Regions from separate parts of the Homo sapiens genome. Here all the other regions are linked to region 4. The links come from fine-mapping of genetic effects on gene expression. A gene starts in region 4. Each other region holds a variant in brackets. All regions are shown on one strand. Distances are from middle to middle.

The links.
Region 1: its variant is fine-mapped to the expression of SLC9A3 in whole blood (TOPMed, PIP above 0.99).
Region 2: its variant is fine-mapped to the expression of SLC9A3 in unexposed skin (GTEx, PIP 0.99).
Region 3: its variant is fine-mapped to the expression of SLC9A3 in subcutaneous fat (TwinsUK, PIP 0.95).
Region 5: its variant is fine-mapped to the expression of SLC9A3 in esophagus mucosa (GTEx, PIP above 0.99).
Region 6: its variant is fine-mapped to the expression of SLC9A3 in thyroid (GTEx, PIP above 0.99). The same link has a PIP of 0.9 or more in adrenal gland.

What each region holds. Positions count from the first base shown.
Region 1 is chr5:589,884-593,966 of GRCh38, forward strand. No RefSeq gene overlaps it. Among named protein-coding and RNA genes, the nearest start is that of CEP72-DT, 20 kb to the right of the region's middle. The variant G/A (reference allele first, on the strand shown) is at 2,439.
Region 2 is chr5:500,652-504,734 of GRCh38, forward strand. The region is part of intron 1 of SLC9A3 (solute carrier family 9 member A3); the gene reads right to left. Among named protein-coding and RNA genes, the nearest start is that of SLC9A3, 22 kb to the right of the region's middle. The variant A/C (reference allele first, on the strand shown) is at 1,768.
Region 3 is chr5:476,228-480,303 of GRCh38, forward strand. It overlaps SLC9A3 (solute carrier family 9 member A3), which reads right to left. Exons shown (of 17, transcript NM_004174.4): 10 at 3,609-3,738; 11 at 1,105-1,217; 12 at 316-445; 13 at 1-151. SLC9A3-AS1 (SLC9A3 antisense RNA 1) reads left to right here. Exons shown (of 7, transcript NR_125375.1): 3 at 5-336; 4 at 1,017-1,109; 5 at 1,579-1,622; 6 at 3,555-3,989. Among named protein-coding and RNA genes, the nearest start is that of SLC9A3-AS1, 5.0 kb to the left of the region's middle. RefSeq lists an enhancer at 1,937-2,106. The variant C/T (reference allele first, on the strand shown) is at 2,256.
Region 4 is chr5:522,379-526,461 of GRCh38, forward strand. It overlaps SLC9A3 (solute carrier family 9 member A3), which reads right to left and starts at 2,071. Exons shown (of 17, transcript NM_004174.4): 1 at 1,734-2,071. The coding sequence starts at 1,944. LOC107986395 (a long non-coding RNA gene) reads left to right here and starts at 2,280. Exons shown (of 2, transcript XR_001742543.1): 1 at 2,280-2,585; 2 at 4,034-4,083. RefSeq lists an enhancer at 3,638-4,083.
Region 5 is chr5:492,684-496,766 of GRCh38, forward strand. All of the region lies in intron 1 of SLC9A3 (solute carrier family 9 member A3), which reads right to left. Among named protein-coding and RNA genes, the nearest start is that of SLC9A3-AS1, 21 kb to the left of the region's middle. RefSeq lists an enhancer at 3,259-3,782. The variant TG/T (reference allele first, on the strand shown) is at 2,411.
Region 6 is chr5:464,587-468,669 of GRCh38, forward strand. It overlaps EXOC3 (exocyst complex component 3), which reads left to right. Exons shown (of 13, transcript NM_007277.5): 11 at 525-686; 12 at 1,132-1,259; 13 at 2,141-2,704. The coding sequence ends at 2,312. Among named protein-coding and RNA genes, the nearest start is that of SLC9A3-OT1, 6.3 kb to the right of the region's middle. The variant T/C (reference allele first, on the strand shown) is at 1,757.

The DNA of each region.
Region 1 (4,083 bases), 68 kb after region 4:
CTGCCTGAGACTTGGTAATTTATGAAGGAAAGAGGTTTAATTGACTCACAGTTTCACAAGGCTGAGGAGGCCTCAGGAAACTTACAATCATGGTGGAAGGGGAAGCAAACATGTCCTTCTTCACATGGCAGCAGCAAGAAGAAGTGCAGAGTGAAGGGGGAAGCCCTTTGTAAAACCATCAGATCTTGTGAAAATCACTCACTATCATGAGAACAGCATGAGGGTAACTGTCCCCATGATTCAATGACTTCCCACCAGGTCCCTCCCATGACATGTGGGGATTATGGGAACTACAATTCAAGATGAGATTTAGGTGGGGACACAGCCAAACCATATCACTTCTGTTGTAAACATTTACTGGCTGCCTGATGTATTTCTAATGTGTTGAATGCTATAGCAAAAAGTCATGTATCTGACAAGACCTGAACAATTACACTGTTTAATTTTCCAATTTTGCTGTGGAAGGAACTTGCCTAAATGAGAGGGACAGAGACTTGCCCAAGATACAAGACATAATTAGCTAGTGATAGAGTTGTTATCAGGATTTTTGTCTCTAATTCCCATTTCTATTTTAGTCCACAAAATTCCAAAGGAAAAAGCACAATCCTTGCCTTTAAGAGTCCAAAAATATTCTTAGGGTGATAAATGCTTTTTAAATAAGTTAATGAATCATGGTCATAGTATTTTCCATAAAATTCCAGAGTTTCCTGTCACCAAACAAGGGAGTGTTAGGTATAATTAGATATGTTCCCCTGGTATCCTAAAAGAATTTTCTTATTAAGAATGTTGATGTGTTGTCATGAATATATTATTTATATTGGAAAATATAGATTGCCATTTTAGTCAATGACAGGTTGTCATGAACCCCACATACCAGTGAGGGCACAATCAAGAGACAGAAACCACAGCAATTATTTAAACACAGAAAACTGAAATGAAGGATTGTTAACCAGGCTTGGAGTTTAGCAGGCAACTGAAAGATATCTTGAAGGTAGAGGCTACTAGAGGAAGCTACTACACCTGTGGCTGGAGGAACAAAGGGGAAATATTGGAACTACTACTATTTTAAAATCAAGACCTCTGAGGAGGGGTACCTGCCAGCTTTAGCTGTTGTCTTGGGGCTCAGAGGGGGGGCCCATGACAGGTGGAGGTTGCATTTCATCCATGTCTCCACGGGAGGAGACGTAAAACTGACCATTTTCTGAAAAGATCGTTTTCTTCCCCCTACTGCTTTGCCAGCATCTTTGTGGTTCTCTCAGTTTTGTTTTCTTTTGTCTTTGTTATAAAAATAGCTTTATTTTAACTTTGTTCTTGAATGATATTTTTACTTGGAGTAATATCCTAGACTGGGAGTTATTTTTTGTTTCTTACACCATTTAAAGATTTTATTGCATTGTCCTCTGGCTTCCATTGTTTCTGCTGAGAAGTTGGATGTCTATCAAATTTTTGCTCCTTCTAAAGTAATCTTACTTTGTATGCTGGTTGCTTTTATGATGTTTATTTTTATTTTGGTTTTCTGTAGTTCACTACAGTGTGTCTAACATGTGGATTTCTATTTATGTTATCTATTTCACTGGAGATTTTTCCCTTCAAATCTTGTATCATTTTTTAAAAATTTCATTAGTTGGACTTCACCTTTCTCTAGTAACTCCTTGATTAGCTTAATAATAGACCTTTTGAATTCTTTTTCTGGCACTTCAGGGATTTCTTATTGGTTTGGATCCATTGCTGGTGAGCTAGCATGCACTTTTGGGGGTACTAAAGAATGTTGTTTTGTCATATTACTGGAATTGTTTTTCTGCTTCCTTCTCATTTGGTAGACTATGTCAGAGGGAAGATCTGGGTCTCAAGGGCTGCTGTTCAGATTCTTTTGTCCCACAGGGTGTTCCCTTGAGGTGGTGCTCTCCCCCTTCCTCTAGCGATGGGGCTTCCTGAGGGCCGAACTGCAGTAATTGTTTTGCTCTTCTTGGTCTAGCCACCCAGTGGAGCTACTGGGCTCCAGGCTGGTACAGGGGAGTGTCTGCACAGAGTCCTGTGACGTGCTCTGTCTTCAGGTCTCTCAGCCATGGATACCAGCACCTGCTCTGGTGGAGGTGTCAGGGGAGTGAAGTGGACTCTGAGGGTCCTTGGTGGTAGCGTTGTTAAGTGCGCTGGTTTGGTATAGGTTGGCCTCCAGCCAGGAGGTGGTGCTTTCAAGAGTGCATCAGCTGAGGTTTTATAGAGAAGATACAAGCTTGCCCTAGAGCCCCCAGGAGATTATGTCCTTTGTCTTCAGCTACCAGGACAGGTAGAGAAAGACCACCAGGTGGGGGCAGGGTTAGGCATGTCCGAACTCAGCCTCTCCTTGGGTGGGGCTTGCTGCAGCTGCTGTAGGAGATGGGGCGTGGTTCCCTGGTCAATGGAGTTATGTTCCCAGAGGGATTATGGCTGCCTCTGCT[G/A]TGTCATACAGGTCGCCAGGGAAGTGTGGGGAAGCAGGCAGTTACAGGCTTCACCCCACTCCCACACAGCCAGCAAGGCCAGTCTCACTCCTGCCATTCGCCCCCACTCCCAACAGCACAAAGTCTGTCTCCGGGCAGTGGGTGAGCAGGGCTGCAAACCTGCCCCAGGCTATCTGCTTCCCAGCTGAGAAAGTAAGCAGAGTTTTAAGGCTTTGTGCCTCCCCACCTGGACACACCATTGGTCTGGGAACACTGTAACCCAGGATCAGGGACAGGGGGGTCCTGGAGTTCCCAGATGACTTGGAGTTGGGCTGCGGCCCCTGGCAGGCTGGTTGACCTCAGTTTACCTTTTATCCCCATGAAGAGCTATATAGGTTCTCTTCCCAAGCAGGGGATACAGAGCAGAAACTTTATTCCTCCTGGGTCTTTGTGCCAACACTTGTCCCCCGACCCCAAAGTACTTTCAAAAGGATGGCACTGATTTTTAGCCACTGCTCCTGAAATTGGCATGGCCCACAGAAGGCATGTCCCCAGATCCCAGGCTCACCCACCTACAATCGCATTTCTCTTGGCTGCCAGCCGGGCTTGTCTACACCCAGATCCCAGGCTCACCCACCTACAGTCGCATTTCTCTTGGGTGCCAGCCAGGCGTGTCTACACTACTTGGTTGGTTTCCAGTGCCTTCAAGCAGATATGGTTCTATTTTGTCCAAGTTTTCCAGTTATCCTTGGCATCTGGGGGGGTATAGGTGATCTAGACTTCCATTTTTGGAAGTGGAATTTCCTGGGTTGATTTCTTTTCCTGTTTAATATTTAAAGATGCACTGTGGGCCATGTGCGGTGGCTCACACTTATAATCCCAGCACTTTGGGTGGCCGATGTAGGTGGATCACCTGAGGTCAGGAGTTTGAGACCAGCCTGGCCATCATGGTGAAACCCCGTCTCTACTAAAAATACAAAAATTAGCCAGGTGTGGTGGCGTGTGCCTGTAATTCCAGCTACTCAGGAGGCTGAGGCAGGAGGATCACTTGAACCAGGTAGGTGGAGTTTGTAGTGAGCTGAGATTACACCACTGCACTCCAGCCTGGGTGACAGCGAGACTCCGTCTCAAAAACAACAACAAAAACAAAAAGACACACTGTGCATGTCCCTGGCCCAGGGCAGAAGTCACAGCCCAGCCTGTTGCCATTAGACACTCTGTTCCGTGACATGTCCCACGAGTCCCACACGTTGCCGAGGCCAGATCTTTACTGACCACTGGAGCCACCTTATGGCCTCAGGATGTGGCTTTGCTGGCATTCCTGTGGAAGAGGCACTGCCCCATCCATGTGCCACCCTGTGCTGTGATGGGGAGCCTGGCTGCTGCACTCACACTCGGGGTGGAAAGCAAAGCCCGACCCCTAATTTAGCCAGTGGGACTCAGGAGCAGGCCATTCACTTGTTCAATTCTGTCCATACTGAAGAGACGCCGGGCCCCTGGCAAGAGGCTACAGAGCCTCTTGCTTCCCTCAGAACCTCTCCTGGGGATAAGTTCCTGTTGTCCCTAAGTCAGCAATGAGGCTGAACCAAAAAGCAATGTGGCCAGGCCAGGGAAACCTTCTCTTTACGGCCAAGAAGTGGGGACCTGCATCTTTGGCCAAAGCAGA
Region 2 (4,083 bases), 22 kb before region 4:
GGGGCTAGTATGGATGGGGCTGGTGTGGATGGGGCCGTGTGGATGGGGCCAGTGTGGATGGGGCTGGTGGGTGTGGACGGGGCTGGTGTGGACGGGGTCAGTGTGGACACAGGGCCAGTGTGGACATGGGGTCAGTGTGGAAGGGGCTGGTGTGGATGGGGCAGGCGTGGATGGGGCTGGTGGGTGTGGACGGGGCTGGTGTGGATGGGGCCAGTGTGGACACAGAGTCAGTGTGGACATGGGGTCGGTGTGGACGAGGCTGGTGTGGACACGGGCCGGTGTGGACAGGGCCAGGCCCTGAGTCCGCCTGCCACAGCCCGTGTGGCTTCCACACAAGGGGACAAACCTGGGGACACGCAGGCCCTCAGGTAACTGATTGCCGAGGCTGGAGAGTCACAGCTAATTAAGCACACAATGGCTTGGTGGCCTGATGGTTACGACAGGGGACAGACGCTTTTAGTTCTAATTACAAACCCTGTGCCTGGAGGAGGAAGGGCCGGCGCTGGCAAACCAGACATTTCCGGATGGGCGCCGGAAAGGGCTTCTCTCTGGGCCCCGGGGGGCTCAGGAAGGCCACGGCCCAATGCATGTCACACCCCTCGGAGCACAGAGGGACGGGGCTTGGTCAGGCCCAGGGCCTCCGCCACCTCCAAGGACCTTTCAAGGTGGCAGAGATTCAGCCGAGTCCACAAAAATGCAACAGCGCAGTCAATCCTGTGGTTTTACTTTAACAGGAACACGTCCCGGAGGATTAAACTCTGCCTCCCAGAAACAGCCTGGCTGAGCGGTGGGGCGGTGAGGCCAGGAAGGAGGGCGGAAGCACAGGTACCCACCCTCCCGGGGGACGAGGGGCCGGGGCATTCCACAGGCAGGCGCAGACACATGCAGGAACACGTGCACGCACACAGAGACTCGCAGAGACGCAGAGACGTGCAGAGACACACAGAGGAGACACGCACAGGGTCCACCCTGTTCTCCTAGCACAGCTGTGGGTCTGAGTTCTCTGCCACCCGCCCCTGCAGGTCCAGCAGAGCTCGCCAGCACACTCTGACCTCAGTATCACTTTACCCGCCTGTGGGGCACCGGCGAGGAATCACGGTAAATGTGTCGGCCGTCAAGCCCAGGGCGGAGGTAAAGGTGCTCACGGAGGTCCGCCGTGCGGCCTGGCAGACGTGCCTGCGTGACCCCACGCGTCCCTGCCTGCGGGTGCAGTTCCCCGTGAGTACTCAGGTTGGCGTGGGACAGGGGAGCCGGCTCCCGGGGGCCACGCAGGAAGCCCCTCTCCGAGCGAGGCCGGGCCCCCGGGCCGGGAAGCTGCTTCCTGCCAGATGAAGTTCACACAGCTCCAAGAACAACAGCCCGTTCAGGACTGGACTCCCTGCGCTCAAGTCACAAGGCGTTTTACACATTGTACATTTACAACACTCGAGCAAACCTGGTCGGTTTTTAAATTGAAACATGAATGTTGCCCACGGTTCCCTAGAGAATCAGGAGATCCTTCGACTCCAAACCACCCTGAGCAACCGCGCTGGGGCAAAATGAACGCAGCCTCTGAGCCAGCCACGGCCTCTGTCCAGGACGCTGGGCAGACCCCACACCCCTTCCTCTCTGGGACCCAGCCGCTCCGGCCCCCCACCCCCAGAGACGGCCCAGGCCCCCTTATTAGCAGCGTGAGAACAGACAGACACAGGCAGGTCCCAAGCTGCCCACAGCAGAGGAAAGACCTGGATGCAGATCCCAGCTGCCACCACCTCAGGGCTTTGCTCA[A/C]AGCAGCAACAAGCTTCAGCTACCGCAGACCCAGCGGCGCCTACCAGGGGCCGCAGCGGAGCACAGTCCCCGGCAAGACACCGGTCGCAACGTCCTGGGGCAACGGAAGTCACGAGACACGTGAAGTGGGAATGTGGCCCAGCTCAAATCAGAGGAGAACGCAAGATGGTCAGACCCTGGAATCAGCAGACAAGGGCCTAAAACAGCAGCTCAAGGATAGAAAAGAAACGTTCTCATAACCACTTAAAAAGGACAAGCCGCAGCGGTGGAGTGGAACAGGGCTTGGCACATTTTTTCTTAAAGGCAGATTGTGAGTATTTTAGGTCCTGCAAGCTGCCAACAGGAGGATCACTTCATAACCACTCACTACCAGTGAGGCCGAAAGCCGCTGTAACGACACAGACGGGCGCCGAAAGCCGCCGTAATGACACAGATGGGCGCTGTGTTCCAGTGAAACTTTACCACTCACTACCAGTGAGGCCGAAAGCCGCCGTAACGACACAGATGGGCGCTGTGTTCCAGTGAAACTTTACCACTCACTACCACTGAGGCCGAAAGCCGCTGTAACGACACAGATGGGCGTTCCAGTGAAACTTTATTTACAACAACCAGTGGCCGGCCCACGGGCTGTAGTTTGCTGATGCCTAAAATAGAACTTATCAAAGAGAACCAAGCAGAAACCCTAGAATCTCTGACATAAAAACTCAATGGATAGACTTACGAGCAGACAGAAATGACAGTAAAGAGAGTGAACTGGAAGACAGATCAGAAGAAATCATCCCATCGGAAGACCAAGGAGAAAAAATGGTTTTTAAAGTAACCAGAGCCTCAGTGGCCTGTGGGGCAAAATCAATAGCTTGTAGCCGCAGCACTTTGGGAGGCCAAGGCAGGAGGATCGCTTGAACCCAGGAGTTCAAGACCAGCCTGGGCAACACAGCAAAACCCCTTCTCGACAAAATAAATTAAAACATTAGCTGAGCCTGGTGGTTTGTGCCCATAGTCCCAGCTACTCAGGGGGCTGAGGCCAGAGGGTCCATTGAGCCTGGGCGGGTTGAGGCTGCACCCCAGTCTGGGTGACAGTGAGCGAGGCCCCCATCCTTGCCCAGAAAAAGGCCTGATATATGTGTAGCTGGAGCTCTGGAAGGAAGGGAGAATGGGGCGGGGAAACCTTGAAGAGCGAATGGTAAAAAATGTCCCCAGTTTGGTGAAAGACACACATTTATAGATTTGAGAAATTTTGCAAGCTCCAAGCAATGCAAGTACAGGGAAAATCCTGCCTGTGGGCACGGCACAGTCAGACTGCTGAAAATCAAAAACAAATGGAGAATCTTTCCATCTGTATAATGTGTGTGAGTTACCAATAAAGAACTTTCTTCTTGTTCCATGAAATGGGCAAGGAAGGCGTGTCTGCTGGAAATCTCATCCACGGCTGTGGTTTCTCCTGAATCGGCGAATCGTCTGCGCGAGGCTGGGGCCTCTGGACAGAAGACTGGGCCCCCAGAGCTCTTGGGGGGTTCCCATCTTCACCCGGTGCCTGGATTCTCAGGGTCCCACCCACCCCCACCTTCCTCACACTTCACCCTCTCTTCTCTCTTGCCCTTATAAAATCATTCACTTCAAAGTAGAAATTATGAAACCGTCTTCATCAATCACGGAAGTTTAGCATTCCCCGTGTTTTTGCCTTTGGTTTATCAACAACTAAACAAGGGAAGGGAACAAGCTTCTGCAGAAGCTTCCAGCAAGGAGACAGCGTCCTATATGAGGCGCCTGGGGAGGGAAGGTGCCGGAAGGCATCGCTGTGGGGCTGCCGCCAGCTCCGGAACCCCCGGGAACCCAAGGGGCACACGTCTCCCCGTGTTCTTGCAGCCCCCGCGTCCCGTGACCCACCCAGGAGGTGTGACCTGCCCTCCTTGCTTCAGGCTCCCCTCTGTAAAGTGAGGAAATAGCCCCCCGGGGCTGCAGCCAGGGCCCAGGGCGGTGGACATGCAGGGTCCAGGACTGGCTGAACCTTGAGCCGCTGCAGGGGCCGTTGGATTTGGCCCTCGGGAGAGAACTCCACAGCCTCCTCCAGTGTGTCCGGCGGCGGCAGCCAGGGAGGGTGCCGGGACCTTCAGACCACACAGCAAGCGGCCAGATCTCAGGCTCCCCGGGCTCACGGCCCCGCTGCCTCCTCCTGTCACCCCCGGGTGAGCCCAGAGGGCTCGGGGTGGGGACAGCAGACAAACCCTCAGCTGCTGGGCAGTGCCTCCCTCTGGGGCCATGGGCACCGGGACCTGCACCCCTCAGCGCTGTGAGGCCACTGTCTCTAAACGTGGG
Region 3 (4,076 bases), 46 kb before region 4:
ACAGCTTGGCCGCCTTCTTGTTCTGGTTGAGCCCCAGCTTGGTCGACTTGAAGGACTCCAGGCGCTTCCGCATGGTCCTGTGGAAGATTTCCCGGTCCTGTTTCTCGTCCTCCGTGGGCGTGAGCTCGTGTCGGCTGTACAGATGCTTGTACTGCGGGATCAGGCACGGAGGTCACAGCTGTGCCCACCGCCGGACATTCTCGCCCTCCTGCCGCAGGAGCTGAGCACGGATCCCCCGTGGTCCCAGGAGGGGACGAGGAAGCCGCCCCACGGGGTCCCTGCGGGGTCCTCCAGCCCCCAGCCCGCAGTGCCCACCTCCTGCCGCGGCTTGTACAGGTACTGCTGTAGCGTGTGGTGCGTGACCATGTCCTCCGCGTCCCGGATGCTCCGCCGTCGCTGCTCCAGAGACTGCATGTCCAGGCAGACAGCGCTGACATTTTCTCTCCTGCGTGGGGACCAGCGCTGAGCCATACAGGCTCCCTCAGGGTGGGGTCTCTTGCGCGCCCCTCGCCTTCCCACGGCGGGCATCTGGCCCTGGCTGCCTCCTGCGTGCCCCTCGCCTTCCCATGGTGGGCACCCGGCTGGGGCACGGGGACATCTGCCATCTGGCCAGCCCCTTCTCCCCTCGGGGCTTAGGCTGACTCCCCACGAGGCCTTCCTGGCCTCCTGTCTGAAGTGGGTCCCTTTCCTTACTGGTCCCTCTCCAAAGCCCTGGCTGTAAGACTCGGGGACCCCAGCATCTGCACATCTGGCAGAGTGGACCTCCTATGAGAACTGGCTGTGAGCTGTGGAGCCCAGGGCCGGAGGAGCAGTAAGGGTGGCATGGGGACCAGGACAGGCTGCTGCGGGCCAGGGGCAAACACGTCAGGCCTGGCCCCCAGTCCGCTGCTGCCCCTCCCTTTCACCTTCCATCCAGCACTAAGGGAGTCTGGCCACGGCCTAATATAGGAGGGCTTGTGGAAGGAGACACCCACCCCCTCTTTCTGCACCTCTCCCCTCTTCCATGCCACCCCCAGGCCAGGAGCCACCACAGCCCTGTCTGTGACTCTCAGCTCCCGAGGCTGGGCTCTTCCCCAGGGAAGCTGCATGACCATGGCCACATACAGGAGGTAGGAGACAGAGGCCTCCACGGTGGACGATCGTGGCGTGAAGTCCACGTTGACCACGTTGTCGGTGCTGGGGGAGCGGATGAAGGCCAGGGACCCGCGGCGCTCTCCCTGTGGTCAGGAAGCAGCCCGGTCAGTGGCCTGAGCAGCCAAGCCCTAGCTGCTGCCATTGTGTGCCCTGGGGGGAAGCGCCCAGAGCTCGGGGCCCGGGGAAAGCCTTGAGACCTGAGCCCCGGGTTCACGCCTCACAGCTGCAGAGGGAGGGGTGGAAATGCCAAAACCAGGAGATCAGATTTTGAGCCCCTGTCCGTCTGAGGCCACAGCCAGGCTGCTGCCTGAACTGGGCAGAGGTCATGCTTGTGGGAGGACACAGTGGTCTGAGTGTGAAGGGGTAAAGCTGCCTGGGACTTGGGATGTGTCTGGGGAAAGTGTTGATACTGCAGAATCATTGAAGTGGTCTCTGTCCCTGCAGGAGACCCTAAAACTCCATTGGCCTCATGTCCAGAACTGAATCAGGTAGAGAACGGAGCAGAGCCCGATGGGGCACAGAAGCCACACAGCTGAGTGCCAGAGGATGGAAGTGGGGCCGCCTATGTGTCCTCAGACCCCACCCGCCTGATGGCAGGGCCTGGAGAGCATGAGGTTGTGCAGGAGCACAGGGCAGAGTGGGCTTATGGCTGGAGTCAGGGTCCCCAGGGCCGGCAGGGGCACGGGTGTGGAGGGAACGTCAGCTCACTGCACTCAGACCTCGCCAGGTGGGCACCCGTGCCGCCTTCAGTGTGCAGGATGCTCCCAGGGAAGCCCCCGGGGTCAGGTGGGTGCCGCTGTTCCCACTGAAGATGCGGCCCCCAGTTCACTGCCCACTCGGGGGGGATTTGAGGGTCATTGGTTCTGAGGGCCCTCCGCCTGCTCTTTTGCTTCTAAATCCAGCATCTTCTGTATGACCTTTGTCCCGCTCCTGCCACCCCACGAAGACAGACGTGAGGGTCAGGGGAGCCACGGTGCTAACTGCCACTCTGGGCGGGCACAGGCGAGGGCTGTGCAGCACCCGGGCACGTGGGGTCTTCGGAGGGGCTGCTCCCCACACCACTTCCCCTGCCCCTGCCGAGCCCTGCCGTGGGGTGGGGGGGCGCAGGGAGAGAAAGCAGC[C/T]GCCCTGGGTGAGAGCCAGGAGGGACACTGGGCAGGCAGATGCCACCCCAGGTGTGGGGACCCCCGCTACTGAGTGGCCGGGAGGAGCCCACAGGCTCCCCACATGCAGCTGAGCCCAGGGTTGTGGTCGTGGGTCGTGGGTCAAGGATGGTGGCTGGTGTGGTTGGGGGAGAGGCTCAAGGCCCGCCTGCCAACCTTGTCACCTATGTGGGGGTGAGGGGAGCCCGCCAGAGGCCAGAGCCCCCACTGTCCCTTCCCACCCTCCAGCCAGGCTCCAGGCCTCCTAGGGCCAGAGTATCTGAGCTTTCTCTCGCTTGCCGGGCCTGTGGTTTGGGGGTTTGTGTGGAGCCTGGTCCAGGAGCCCTCCTTCCTGATCTGCACTGGCTGGCCCTCCTGACAGCCCCAGGCCCCCGTGCCCTCTGCCAGGAGGTGCCTTGCCACTTGGCATGGCCCCAGTCACGGGTGGCACATCTGGGGTGAATGCACGTCAGTGGAGGCAGAATCATTCTGTCTGAATGAATGGAGTTTCCAGGCCCCCACTGGCCCTCTGTGTGAGGGTCTGCAGGGTTTGGCAGGACAGGTCTTTCTCTCCGGCGAGAGCACCCACCCTGACCGGCTGCTGGATGAGGGCACCAAAGCTCGCTAGGGAGGGCTCTGTCCTTAGGGAGGAGCTGCGGAATCCCTGCAGCTGTGCCCCCAGGCCCTGCCTTGCACACTTCCTGCAGCCAGGGCGCCCCTGGGGAGGTCAGGGCAGGCCGGGGAGGCTGAGGCCCACCTGCCATAGTGGGCAGGTGCGGGAGCCAGGGCGGCAGTGGCCTCGGGGCTGGGTGGGGCGCCTGGCCTCTGGTCTCTGGAGCAGTCAGGGGCTCTGCAGACGCTGAGAGGCCTGCTCATAGTGGACTGGGAGATGCTGGAGCAGCCTCAGAGCCATGGCCGGCCCACAGCGGGAGACGGCCCTGCTGCTGCCCCTCTGCCTGTGCGTGTGCACCTGTGGGCACCTGCGTGTGCTGGGGCAGGCAGGGCTGTATTGGGACCAGGTCCCGTAACAGCCTGCCTGCTTACCGTCTGCTCCCATCCCTGGGGAAAGCAAGGGAGCTCGGGGTCCTAGGACCTGACCTCAGCGCTCACCCCCACCAGCACCACAGTCACCAGGACTCTGTGACTCAGTTTACCCCACGAGAGCCCCTGGGATTCCCAGGGCATCAGAAGGCCCATCAGCCTCCCGTGAACTGCTGGGGTGGGCCTGGCCTTGGGACGCGGGTGCAGGGGCCTCTCCTCACTGCCCCATGGCACCCACAGCCAGTGCCAGAGCCTGCTGCAGCCCCGACCCGGCAGAGCAAGCGGCTCTGCTACCTCAGCCACGTAGCTGATGGCATCCTTCAGGTTCAGCTCGTGGAAGACATTCAGGATCCGGTCTCGAGACTTCTGGGCCGACCGTCTCATGAGGACCCTGCTGAGGAACTTCCTGTCGAAGTGGGACCACCTGTAGGGACAGACCTTGGGTGTGAGCCTCAGGTGACAGGCGCCCTAGAGCCCGCCGGACGCGTGGCCCGGCCCCTTCTCTCCTGAATTTTGTTTGCTATAGTGACCCTGTAGGCGCGTTTAAAATGAGGGAAGCAGCCCCTGCCACACGCCCAGGCCGTCCGCCGTTCTCCCGCCTGTCCTGTTGGATGGAGGCCGTTAGACGCATATGAAACTGCATGCCGCCTCCTCCAGAGGGTGGCTCAGGACACGGTGGGTGTCAGGCCTGGTCAGGCAAGGGGGCTTTGGCCACATGGGGGGCACCTTCAGGTGCACAGGAGGAAGGGCAGGGGCGGACAG
Region 4 (4,083 bases):
CCTGGCGGCTGTCATTGGACCTTCAGATGCCAGATTCTGACTCTGTACACTGGGCTAAACTGGGAGAGGCCCCAGCTTGTACAGAAATTAGATATTCACGGCCGGGCGCGGTGGCTCACGCCTGTCATCCCAGCACTTTGGGAGGCCGAGGCGGGTGGATCACCTGAGGTCTGGAGTTCAAGACCAGCCTGACCAACATGGAGAAACCCTGTCTGTACTAAAAATACAAATTAGCTGGGCGTGGTGGCTCATGCCTGTAATCCCAGCTACTCGGGAGGCTGAGGCAGGATGTGGAGGTTGCAGTGAGCCGAGATCGCGTCATTGCACTCCAGCCTGGGCAACAAGAGCAAAATTCTATCTCAAAAAAAAAAAAAAAAGAAAAAAAAAGAAATTACCTTTTCAGTTTACACCAGGGGGGCACTCCCGTCAGAGGAAAGCAGGGTGAGCTTTAGGACTGGGCGGCCGCAGAGCCCAGGTTGAGTCTGGACCTCCCTGATGCCCCAGGGGCCCTTCTCAAGGAAATCAACTGTAGGAGGCAGCCAGCCTCAGAGACTCCCCCCCGGCCAGCATCCCAAGCCCCCAGTGGAAAGCCCAGGGAGGACAGCCTGAGCCTGGAGAGCAGGCAGCCCGGCGGGGAGCTGAAAGACACCAGGGCGAGGAGGAGGCTGCGGAGAAGGGAGGAGGCGGGAGGGCTCAGAAGAGCCCTTATGAGACAGAAAGCAAACACACAAGGGGCCTGAAGGGGAGGGGAGACCCTGGCATAAATAGGGCAGGCGGCAGGCGTCACTGAAGGAAAAGGCGCCTTCTCCAATCAAGCCTGCTGGGCGTACCAGGTTCCACCAAGGCCAAGGTCCTCTCAGCTGTTCTCCCCGGAGCCTGTCCCTCCCCTGTCCTGCGTGGGCGCCCCTCCTCGGCCCCAGCATCGAAACCTCCTCTCGCCCCAGTCCAAAGCTGCTCTGGAAACCTGCCGCGGCGCCTGCTGCTCTGATCTTGCTTCTCCTGGCCCCACTCGGGCCCCCTAATCCCCCCTCCACACGAGTGACCACCTCCCTGCCACCCCTGGAGAGACCCTACCCTGTGGACCAACACATGAAACTTTGATCCCCACGAGCTCCTCAGGAAGCTGACCTTCCTGTCACCTTGCCAGGAGCTACCTGCCGTGCCCACATTACTGGTTCATTGGCGCCGGTTAAGAAGAAGAGAAATCTGACCGACCGGGATTTTCTAAAAAAAAAAAAAAAAAAGGAGGCCCGCCAATGGGAACGCTGCGCCTGTAGGGAGGATTCTGCTGGGTTTCATGCGGGTAGCACCGCTTTTCTTTTCTGCCCTTGTAACTCACGAAAAAACGCCATCACTCCAAGGACGTTTCTCTAAAAAGCCTGAGAACCCCGAAGGAAACCCGGCCCCGGGGACTCCCTGGGCGCGAGCAGCCTGCAGTCTGCGGGGCTCGGAGCGGAGGCGGGGCGGAGACCCCACAGGGACCCGGGAGCCGGGAGTCCGGGGCTCCGAGGCTGTGCCCCCGCCGGGGAGGGGAGACCTCGGGACCCGCAGGGGCGGCTTAGCGCGGCCAGAGTCGCTCCCGAGTCTCGCTCTGCTGGACCCGAGAGCCGGACTCTCCCGGGCGGCCGCCGCGCGGCTCCGACCTGATGCGCGCGGCCACAACGAAGCCCCCAGGCCCAGCAGAGGCGGCCGCACACCCCGCGGGCAGATCCGGAGACCCCGGGGCCACTTACCGATCTTGGCCAAGCTGGCCACGAGGATCCAGAGCGCGATGACGTAGGGATCCTGCACGTGGGCCCACTCGAAGGTGACCACCTGGAAGCCCCCGCTCTCGCCGTGCGCGCCGCCGGGCTCCACCTCGACGCCCCCGGCCCGCGCCAGCCCGCCCAGCGCCAGCGCCAGCAGCAGCCCCCGGTCGGGGCCCCGGGCCCCGAGTCCCCACATTGCCGCCTGCTCAGCGCAGGGCTGGGACGCGCATGTCGCGGGGGGTCCCGGCTGGGCTGGGCCGACGCGCGGGGCTGGGACCCGGCGAGGACCCGGCGCGCTCCGGTGCCGGTACCGGCTACAGTCCGATCCCCGCCCGCCGGGGTGGCCTTTAATCCCGCGGCCCCCTCCCGCCCCGGGGCGGAGCCTGCCCGCCCCCGCCGCGCACTCGCGAGCGCAGACACCGCCGCAGCTCCCGGCACGCCCGCCCCGCCCGCGCACGCCCACCCCGCGCTCCCTGGTGCCCACCCTCCCCCGGAGCCCGCGGCCTGGAGGTCCGGGAGGTCGCGGCAAGAGCGAGCCCGGGACTGCGCGGCCGCCTTCCTGGGGCGTGGGGAGCACAGCGCGGGGCAGCGGGACAGGCGGTTCCGCGCAGCTCCTGGGATGCCCGGGCAGCTGTGGGTGCGCTCGCCCCAACCCTCCTTCATAAACGCAGGGCCTGGGGCTGCGCAGACCCCACAGGGCGGCCCAAGGGTGCACAGGGGCCCCAGGTGTGTCTTCACACAGCCCCTCGCTATTGTCTTCAGCAGGAACCTGCATTCCACAGCCGGACCGGCCACTTACCAGAACTCGGGGGCGCCCAGGCCTTGCGTGGTGCGCTGGTAAGTCTCTCTGCCCCTCCCATCGCCAGCCAGCATCCCCCACCCCAGGCTCTGAGATGGGAGCCCAGGGGCCCCCGTGGTCTCCCCTGCCCCATCCCCTGCCTTTAGACCTCCGCCCAAAACAATTCGATACCCCCAGGGCTTCACACGGATGCGGGGCCTCTGCCCACAGCCCGCTCCGGCAGCACTGGCTCTCTTAAGCATCTCAGGCTCCACTGTGCAAACCACACCCCTGTTTTCCTCCAAGCCCACCCTGCAGCCTTCCAGCCCCAGACCTGGGACGCAGGTGGACTTCTTTCGCTCACAAGGTTTCCAAGCTCTTAGCATATCTGCTCTACTTTCAAAATGTGCACAAAACCAGCGGCTTCTGGGAGCCTGCAGCCACCTGCAAAGGCTCCTGCTCGGCCCTCTACCTGCCCCTTCAGTCCCTCCTATTGGGACCCTCCCTCTCAGAGGAAAGGCTCAACGTCTCCCGGGAGCTCAGACCCCAGCCACTGCCTGACCCCCACCCCCATGCACTCCACGGCCCACACCAGCAATCGGCGCCTCTCGGGGCCTTTGCACGCCCTGCTCCCTCTGTTTGGACGGCTCTTGTGTGCTCCCTTCCTCAGCTCCCCAGGGGCTTGGCTCCAATGCCACCTTCTGGTCCCACCCGATACCCACTCAGCTCACAACTGTGGCAGCTAAGCTCCCGCCTCCCCTGCTTACTCGGTTGGCTCCGGGAATCAGCTCACCTCCCAGCCCTGGGGGCTGCTGGCTTTGACCTTGAGCTGTCTGCCCTCACCCTGGGAATGTCTGCTCCACGAGCAAGGGGCTCATGCATACATCCCAGGAGCTTGGAAGATAGCTGGGCACACAATAGCACTCGCAAGATAGTGGCTGAGCGGATGGATGATAGATGGATGGAAGGACAGATAGGTGGACAAAGGGCAGGTGGGCGGTGGGGTGGGTGCAGATGGAGGATGGATGTGTCTTCTGACATCTGAGTGGGGGCTGCGGAGGCCTGAGGAGGACAGTGCTGAGTTCAATGACTTCACCCTGCAAGGGCCCCAGTTTCATGCTAATGGAAGTGGCCCGTGTAGCACAGGGAAGGTGCATTCAGATGGTGCTCGCCTGGTGACTCGGCTGCTGAGTGGCGTGGAGGGAGGGCAGCCCTGGCCTGGGCCACTGCAGGGTCTGGACAGGGCACCGGGGGAGTGGAAGTGTGTGACTGGCCACTAGTATGGTCTTGCGAGGTGGGAGCATCGGAGTCGCTCTTGGCCTGTGTCCCTGCCCCACCTGTCTCTGTCCCCCACTCCACTCCCAGCCTCTTGTCCCAGAGAAAAAGCCAGCAGGACAAGAACAGGATTCCCTCCAGTCCGGAGCTTCCCTGCTCTTTCCTTATGGTTCCTGGGTGGAGCCGTTAGGAACGACGTCCTCTCTGAAGATGTTGCCCTTGCATTCCACAGGAAGGCCAAATTTCCACCAGACCAGTGTGTTCCATGATGCCCACTGGACC
Region 5 (4,083 bases), 30 kb before region 4:
CCCACCGCCCGGCTGGTTCTGGTCCCCCGGACCCCCAACTCGCTCTGTGCCTTTTGCCTTGGTGACCAAGGTCTGAGCTCACCCTGTCCCTGACGTTGTGGCCAGAGCCTGCTCCCACTTGAGGCTGGCTGTGTTTCAGACCCCTCCGGAGGGGCCCCATGGAGGCTGTGGCCCCCTCTCCTCGTGCCCCTCTCCTGGGATCACGGCCCCTGGGTGGGGTGTTCTAGGAAGAGTCTCTGGGTCCCGCCACTCCACTCCGCACGGGTGAGCTTAAGGGTGGACAGCAGGTCCTGGGGACCCCCCGTGGAGCTTCACCCCGTCCCCCAGCACCATCGCCCCTGCCAGGACCTCAGAGGCTCTGCCCGGCCCTGTGGGTGGGGGTGCAGGCACCAACCTATCTGGGCCATGTCTCCTGTGTTTTAGTTGGACTCAGAAAAAAAAAAAAAGGTGATGAGAATTCCTGCGCTCGGCCTGATTTCAAAATAGCGGGAAGCCTGACAAATGAGGTGCGTCCTCCGGCTTCGGTGATGTAAGGGATAATGAGCTTCTTCATTCCCTCAGCTGCTGGTTATTAAGTCTTCTTTGAAATTCAAAGGAAAGTTGTCTCCTGAGATGGCCAAGACCCCATTTAAGCACAGAGCAGCGGGAGCGGGGAGGCTCCCTCCACACCACCCGCCCCCGAAGAATGTGTCAGCACAGCTGGAGGGGCGGTGGAGGCAGTGGCCACGTCCCACCCTTCCCGACTGCGTGGCCCTGACGAGCTCGGCCCTCCCTGCCTGTTTTCTCCCTTGTAATTACGGAGCTCTTGCAGGGCCGGGTGCTGGCCCAGAGGAGGGAGGTGCTGTTCTGGATTTGCCGTTCCTTCCCCGAGGATGGTCTTACACCAAATACCACGGGTGGCATGGGCCCCTCTAGGGAGGGTGGCAGGCACAAGCTCCGCACCTGCCCGGCCACCAGCACTGCACTGCGGTCTCCCGACCCTGTCCCCAGGACAGCGGCTCTGCCTGCTGCTCCAGATTCCAAAACACCAGCCCCGGGAGGGATCGGGGTTCAGAGGCTCCTGCTTTCAGGATGGGAGGTCCTGCTGTGGGCCCCGTCCCCACCATGTGCCCCACAGGCTCTCTGAGCCCCCCGACGGCTCCCCCACTCCGGGCTGCACATCCTGCACAGATCTGAGCTCCACACCTGTCAGGCAGGGCAGCGGGGGTTGGCCCGGGGAGGCTGGAACCACGCGACAGTGATAACCAAACCAGGGGAGGGCATGGCCTGCAATGAGGGAGGGCCTGGCCTGGAATGAGGGAGGGAGGCTGTCCCTGGGGAACACGGAGGGTGAGCTCCCTGGAGTCCTCGGGGCCCCGCTCAGAGCTGGCCTGCAGGGTCCCGTCTGCTCCAGCTTTCAGCAGGAGAGCATCCGTAGGGTTGACCTTGCTCTCTCCCCACAGCTCTCCCTTCTCTAGAAGGTGCTCCCCAGCTGGGAGTGGCTGTGATGCACGTGAGAAGTCCTGGGACCCTAACGCGTGCCCCGACAGCCCCGTCCTCAGCAGCGCCCTCCCCAGATCTGGGCTCACGGGGCTGGCAGCCCAGCAGGAAAACAGGGGCCCCTCTTCTCTGGGCTCCACGGCCTGGTCCCTGTGGTGGCCAGGGACAGACCTGGCCTCGCAGAGCTTTGGGAAGAGACATGGGTGGCCTTCCGGGCCTGCGAGGGGAAGGCTGTGGCCTCTGCTCAGGGCAGCCTGGGACCCCCTCCACAGCCGGGACTCAGCAGGTTCTAGGCTGGCATGGGAGTCTGCACACTAAGGGCTCCGAGGCCTTTGGGAGTCCTGCTGGGGGTCCCTATGGTGCAGGAAGGCCTGGGGCAGGTGTTCCCACCTCTGCAGCCTCCTGATTTTTTTAATAATGTCCAGAGAGAAGTGGAGTTTACCACTTCCTTCCTTTCTTCCTGAGGGCTGTAAATCCCCGCCTTGGTGTCCCAAGCTGTGTTAGGAAGACCAGGGTGGTCTGTGCCCGGTGCCGGCGCCTGCCCACCCGCAGGCTGACCCGCGCCTCTCACATCTGTCCTTGGCGACGTCGTCACCTCTGCTGCTGGCGACGAGTGCCTAGCAAAGCCGGGCACAGCCGTGGTGATGGTGACCCCCTGGAGGCTGCCCAGCCGCTGGCAAGACCCACCCAGGCCGCTGTTTTCTACACGATGCACGTTCTTTGCCTCTGCCCACGTCCCAGGCTGGCTCCTGGAGGGGTAATCGGCTCACCTGTCCTCCTCTTTTCAGGGTCACAAGACCTGGGAGATGGTATTTGTCCAATAGCGCTTGTGGAGCAGCCAGCGGGGCACGTGTGGCCCCTCGGTGCCCGCCGGCACGTGGGCTGCTTTGAGGATAAAATCCAGCGACCACAGAGACCGCGTGTCCCCAGG[TG/T]GGGGGGCGCCGTGGCCGCAGGTCAGACCTGGGAAGCAGCGGGAGTCTCGGAGCTCCTGGACGCCCTCACCCTTGGTGGCTGCCGACACTTGGCCCGGGGTCTTTTTGTTGAGGGTTAGGGTCTTTCAGCCACAGTCTTCCAAAATTAGGTTCACAGCGATCACCACCGTTGTGAAGCCACCCCAGACAACCGCGGGCCAGCAAGTCAGGGACACAGGGACACAGGGACCAGCTTTGTCTTTAAAAACAACAACGCAACTCTGTGCCCTGGGGACTCACAGTGCTCCCCGCGCCATCGCCGACCCTCCCCACGCTCCACTCCCCGCGCCATCGCCGACCCTCCCCACGCTCCACTCCCCGCGCCATCGCCGACCCTCCCCACGCTCCACTCCCCGCGCCATCGCCGACCCTCCCCACGCTCCACTCCCCGCGCCATCGCCGACCCTCCCCACGCTCCACTCCCCGCGCCATCGCCGACCCTCCCCACGCTCCACTCCCCGCGCCATCGCCGACCCTCCCCACGCTCCACTCCCCGCGCCATCGCCGACCCTCCCCACGCTCCACTCCCCGCGCCATCGCCGACCCTCCCCACGCTCCACTCCCCGCGCCATCGCCGACCCTCCCCACGCTCCACTCCCCGCGCCATCGCCGACCCTCCCCACGCTCCACTCCCCGCGCCATCGCCGACCCTCCCCACGCTCCACTCCCCGCGCCATCGCCGACCCTCCCCACGCTCCACTCCCCGCGCCATCGCCGACCCTCCCCACGCTCCACTCCCCGCGCCATCGCCGACCCTCCCCACGCTCCACTCCCCGCGCCATCGCCGACCCTCCCCACGCTCCACTCCCCGCGCCATCGCCGACCCTCCCCACGCTCCAGTGAGGCCGCTGGTTACTGTAAAAGCCTGTTAACTGGGACACTGGTGGGTGAGGGACAGGCTGGCTTCAGACCAAACACTCCTGCTCAGAAGTAAGCCCTTAAAATCCACAGAAAACATCCTCTGACCTTGGTAGTTACTGAGAAAATATACATATATACGCACAAACGCCGCATAGGTGGGAGGGCGGCGGTTTGGAACATTCTGCCATCCGGGGTTGGAAAGGGTGTTGGACACGCCTTTCCCATGTGCGGTGGCGTCCGAGGGCAGCTCCTGCAGTCTTCAGGGTGTGTGTGTGTTGAGAGCTCACCTGTGTCCTCCTGCATGGGACATGCCGTCCCACCTGCCCACGGGGGAGGAGCCGCACCCATCCCCACCGGCCAGGCAGGCGTGAGCCACATCTCCTGAGGGGCCCAACCTAACAGCCTCTGACGACCTGTGGGTGACGCGTGAACGACCCCGTTCTGTGAAAGTGTCGGCTTGCTCCCCTGCCGGGCACTGATCCTTTCCTATTGACACGAGGTTCTTCGTAAGCTGGAAAATCCAGCCTTTGCTTATGTCTTCAGCGGCAGGTAGATTTTCACTTTCAAAAATGTTGCTCTCATCTTTCCACTTTGTCTTCTGTCATTTTGCTCCATGCGAACGTCTTTTCTTTTTATAGTTAAATTTATTGGTCTTTTGTTTTATGGCTTCTGAGTTTTGTGTTATACTTAACAAAGCCATTCCTGCTCATGTTTCCTGCTAAATTTTTTAGCAGGAAAAATAAAGGCACTCAATTAAATTTTCCTTGAAGGC
Region 6 (4,083 bases), 58 kb before region 4:
GTGAGAATGGCCGGGGCCCTGTGGCATGGCCCTCGAGGTGGAGGGAGCCATGGTTCCCGGAGAGGCCCGCGTGCCCCGTCTTAGCTCCTTGCCTTCCACTCACTCCCTGAGGCCCCAGGGATTTCTTTCCGCTTCAGACCCTCCTTCCTGCAGGACCCAGGTTCCTCTTTCCTCCAAAGTGCCTGCCGCGTTTTCCAGATGCTGCGGTCGTTATCAAAGGACAGCAGCAGCCACTGACACGGGCCTGTCTGTGGACCGAGTGCTCATGCGCGGCACTGCCTCGCCCGCGTCTGTCCTGCTGGGGGCCGGAGCTGGCCTGGTGCGGGGGTCCAGGTCACCGTCACTGTTCCCCCACTGAGCCCCCGCTCCTCCTCTGCGGTGAGATGCCAGAGCCGTGGCGGAGCGAGGAGGAGTGGGCTCAGAGCCTCCGGGGAGCCACCGGGAGCCCCAGCCTGGGTTTCAATGAGGGTGCTCCTGGCCGCCAGAGCCGTGGAGCCTGCCGCTGACCGCGCGTGTCTCCCCAGAGGATGACGGCCGAGGCGCACCGGCGCGTGGTGGTGGAGTACCTGCGGGCGGTCATGCAGAAGCGCATTTCCTTCCGGAGCCCGGAGGAGCGCAAGGAGGGTGCCGAGAAGATGGTTAGGGAGGCAGAGCAGCTGCGCTTCCTGTTCCGGAAGCTGGCGTCCGTGAGTGTCGCGCAGGTCCGGGCTGGAGAAGGCCTGTCGCTCCGCGGCCCTGTTCAGCCTCCACCCCGGGACTCGGGCCAGTAGATGGGAGTGTGTCGTGTGTTTGTCAGGCGGGGGGAGCCTGGGTCCAGGTCCTGCCTGACCTTGTGGTTGGACACGAATGTCCACAGAGGTAGACGCGCCGGCCCCGCCGGCTTCCCGAGGCCGCCCACAGCTCCCTGACGGACGCTTCCCAGTCTGTCCTGCGCTGCGAGGTGCTGGCTGCCTCCCACGGTCTCGCCCTCACCCCAGACCCCTGGCCCTGTCACTGAGCTTTCAGAGTAGATCCTGAGGAGTCAGGTGAAGAGGGAGGTTCCCAGTCAGGAAGGGGCTCAGCCAGAATCCAGCTGCTCCCAGCGCCGCGGGACAGCCGAGGGCGGCTCCTCACATTGCTGCTGCCTTCCAGGGTTTCGGGGAAGACGTGGACGGATACTGCGACACCATCGTGGCTGTGGCCGAAGTGATCAAGCTGACAGACCCTTCTCTGCTCTACCTGGAGGTCTCCACTCTGGTCAGCAAGTATCCAGACATCAGGTAAGGGATGCACGTCTTAGAATCCTGCCTTAGAATCCTGGAGTGGAGCGGCAGGTCCCTCCTTCTGTCTGGGGCGGGTGGGGCTCCTGGTTCGCAAGTTCAGCCCTGCAGCACGGCAAGGGTTCAGGTGCGGCACAGCGGGGCCCAGGCGCAGGGAGCAGAGCTGCTTCTGTGCTGCCTTCCACCTGGCCTGGGCTACAGTGTGGGTGGGTGGAGCTCGAGGGGCACATCCCGGGTGGGGACAGTGGGGTGGGGGCGGGGCTGTGACAGCTCTGCTGTGTGTGGTGGGGAAGATTTGGGCTGTGGAGTGGCCTCAGTGGGGCGAGTTTAGGAAGTTTCCTCTGTGCTCATGGTGGACTCGGGAGGGCCCAAGTGCAGCTTGGACCAGACACCTTCCGAGGACGTGATTACAGGGAGTCCCCAGTACCAGGTCCAGGGAAGGGGACCCACGCACGTCCCCCCTCCACCATGCTGGCTCCAGGCCCCAGGCCAGCCTT[T/C]GCGGCCCCTGTCTCAGGGCACCTGCCACTTCCCCAAGGGGCCACCTCCATGGCTGCAGCCGCGTCACCTCCGTCCCATCATCTCGCTGGTTAAACGTGGAAAAACGGGGTCTTGAGCTCTCCACGGTCTCCCCTCTGGTTGGGCCGGAACAAAGATTTATAAAAGCAGTGTTGAAAAATCTTTCTGCAATTGGATTGAGAAAAGACAGAGTAAGATGAAAATGCAGGCTTGTCTCCCGCTGAAAAGGGAAAGGTGCAATTTGTCTGCAGCGGTCCTCACCCCCTGTGTTCTGTCAGCTGGGGTGGTGAAGCCGTGAGTCCCTGGCAGCGTGGTGCATCACAGGGCTGCTAAGTGGGCATGGGCTGACATCTCCCCATCCCCAGGGATGACCACATCGGTGCGCTGCTGGCTGTGCGTGGGGACGCCAGCCGTGACATGAAGCAGACCATCATGGAGACCCTGGAGCAGGGCCCAGCACAGGCCAGCCCCAGCTACGTGCCCCTCTTCAAGGACATTGTGGTGCCCAGCCTGAACGTGGCCAAGCTGCTCAAGTAGCCTCCGCCGGCCTGCCCTGCTCGCCCCTCCACAGCCTCGGTCCCTGCCTTTAGAAACGCGGGACAGCTGATTGCTCTCCTTGGCCACACGTGCTCCTTTTAGCTGCACGGCCTGTCTTTAGGTGCCAGTGTGATGCACCGGGTGTGCGTCGAGTGAGCGTCCCGAGGCCACGTGCGGAGGCCCCTCACTGTGCTGTCAAAGGCCTGTGGGTGCAGGGCTCTGCCGCACAGCCTCTCTTGGGTGCTTGTTTGTTGCAGTGGTTGAAAGTGTGTGGGGCACAGAGGACGTGCACCTCCCTGCCCTCCTCCTCCCTGGGCCTTCACCGCACCCCATCTGCTTAAGTGCTCGGAACCCCGTCACCTAATTAAAGTTTCTCGGCTTCCTCAGAGAAATGAAAACGCCATGCATTCTCTTTTCCAGTTAAGGTTTTCTGACTACTGATCTAGGATTGCCCAGGAACTGTTGTCAATCACAGAGTAAAAGTCTCCGCTCAGCCTGGAGGGCGCCCTCCTGGTCCCCTCCTGTCTGACATCCCCTCAGCCTAGAGGGCGCCCTCCTGGTCCCCTCCTGTCTGACATCCCCTCAGCCTAGAGGGTGCCTTCCTGATCCCCTCATGTCTGACATCCCCTCAGCCTGGAGGGCGCCCTCCTGGTCCCCTCCTGTCTGACATCCCCTCAGCCTGGATGGCGCCCTCCTGGTCCCCTCCTGTCTGACATCCCCTCAGCCTAGAGGGCGCCCTCCTGGTCCCCTCCTGTCTGACATCCCCTCAGCCTGGATGGCGCCCTCCTGGTCCCCTCCTGTCTGACATCCCCTCAGCCTAGAGGGTGCCCTCCTGATCCCCTCATGTCTGACATCCCCTCAGCCTGGATGGCGCCCTCCTGGTCCCCTCCTGTCTGACATCCCCTCAGCCTAGAGGGTGCCCTCCTGGTCCCCTCATGTCTGACATCCCCTCAGCCTAGAGGGCGCCCTCCTGATCCCCTCATGTCTGACATCCCCTCAGCCTGGAGGGCGCCCTCCTGGTCCCCTCGTATCTGACATCCCCTCAGCCTGGAGGGCGCCCTCCTGGTCCCCTCCTGTCTGACATCCCCTCAGCCTGGAGGGCGCCCTCCTGATCCCCTCCTGTCTGACATCCCCTCAGCCTGGAGGGCGCCCTCCTGGTCCCCTCGTATCTGACATCCCCTCAGCCTGGAGGGCGCCCTCCTGGTCCCCTCCTGTCTGACATCCCCTCAGCCTGGAGGGCGCCCTCCTGATCCCCTCCTGTCTGACATCCCCTCAGCCTGGAGGGCGCCCTCCTGGTCCCCTCGTATCTGACATCCCCTCAGCCTGGAGGGCGCCCTCCTGGTCCCCTCGTATCTGACATCCCCTCAGCCTGGAGGGCGCCCTCCTGGTCCCCTCGTATCTGACATCCCCTCAGCCTGGAGGGCGCCCTCCTGGTCCCCTCCTGTCTGACATCCCCTCAGCCTGGAGGGCGCCCTCCTGGTCCCCTCCTGTCTGACATCCCCTCAGCCTGGAGGGCGCCCTCCTGGTCCCCTCCTGTCTGACATCCCCTCAGCCTGGAGGGCGCCCTCCTGGTCCCCTCCTGTCTGACATCCCCTCAGCCTGGAGGGTGCCCTCCTGGTCCCCTCCTGTTTGACATCCCCAGAGTTACTCCTTGGGTCCTTTGAGAGATGAGACACCAGCTGCACCCAGCAAGCCCTGTCCCCACCCCCAGGTGAGCAGACCTCTGGCACCGGGTGTTGCCAGCCAAGTCAGCCATACCTGGTAGACGAGC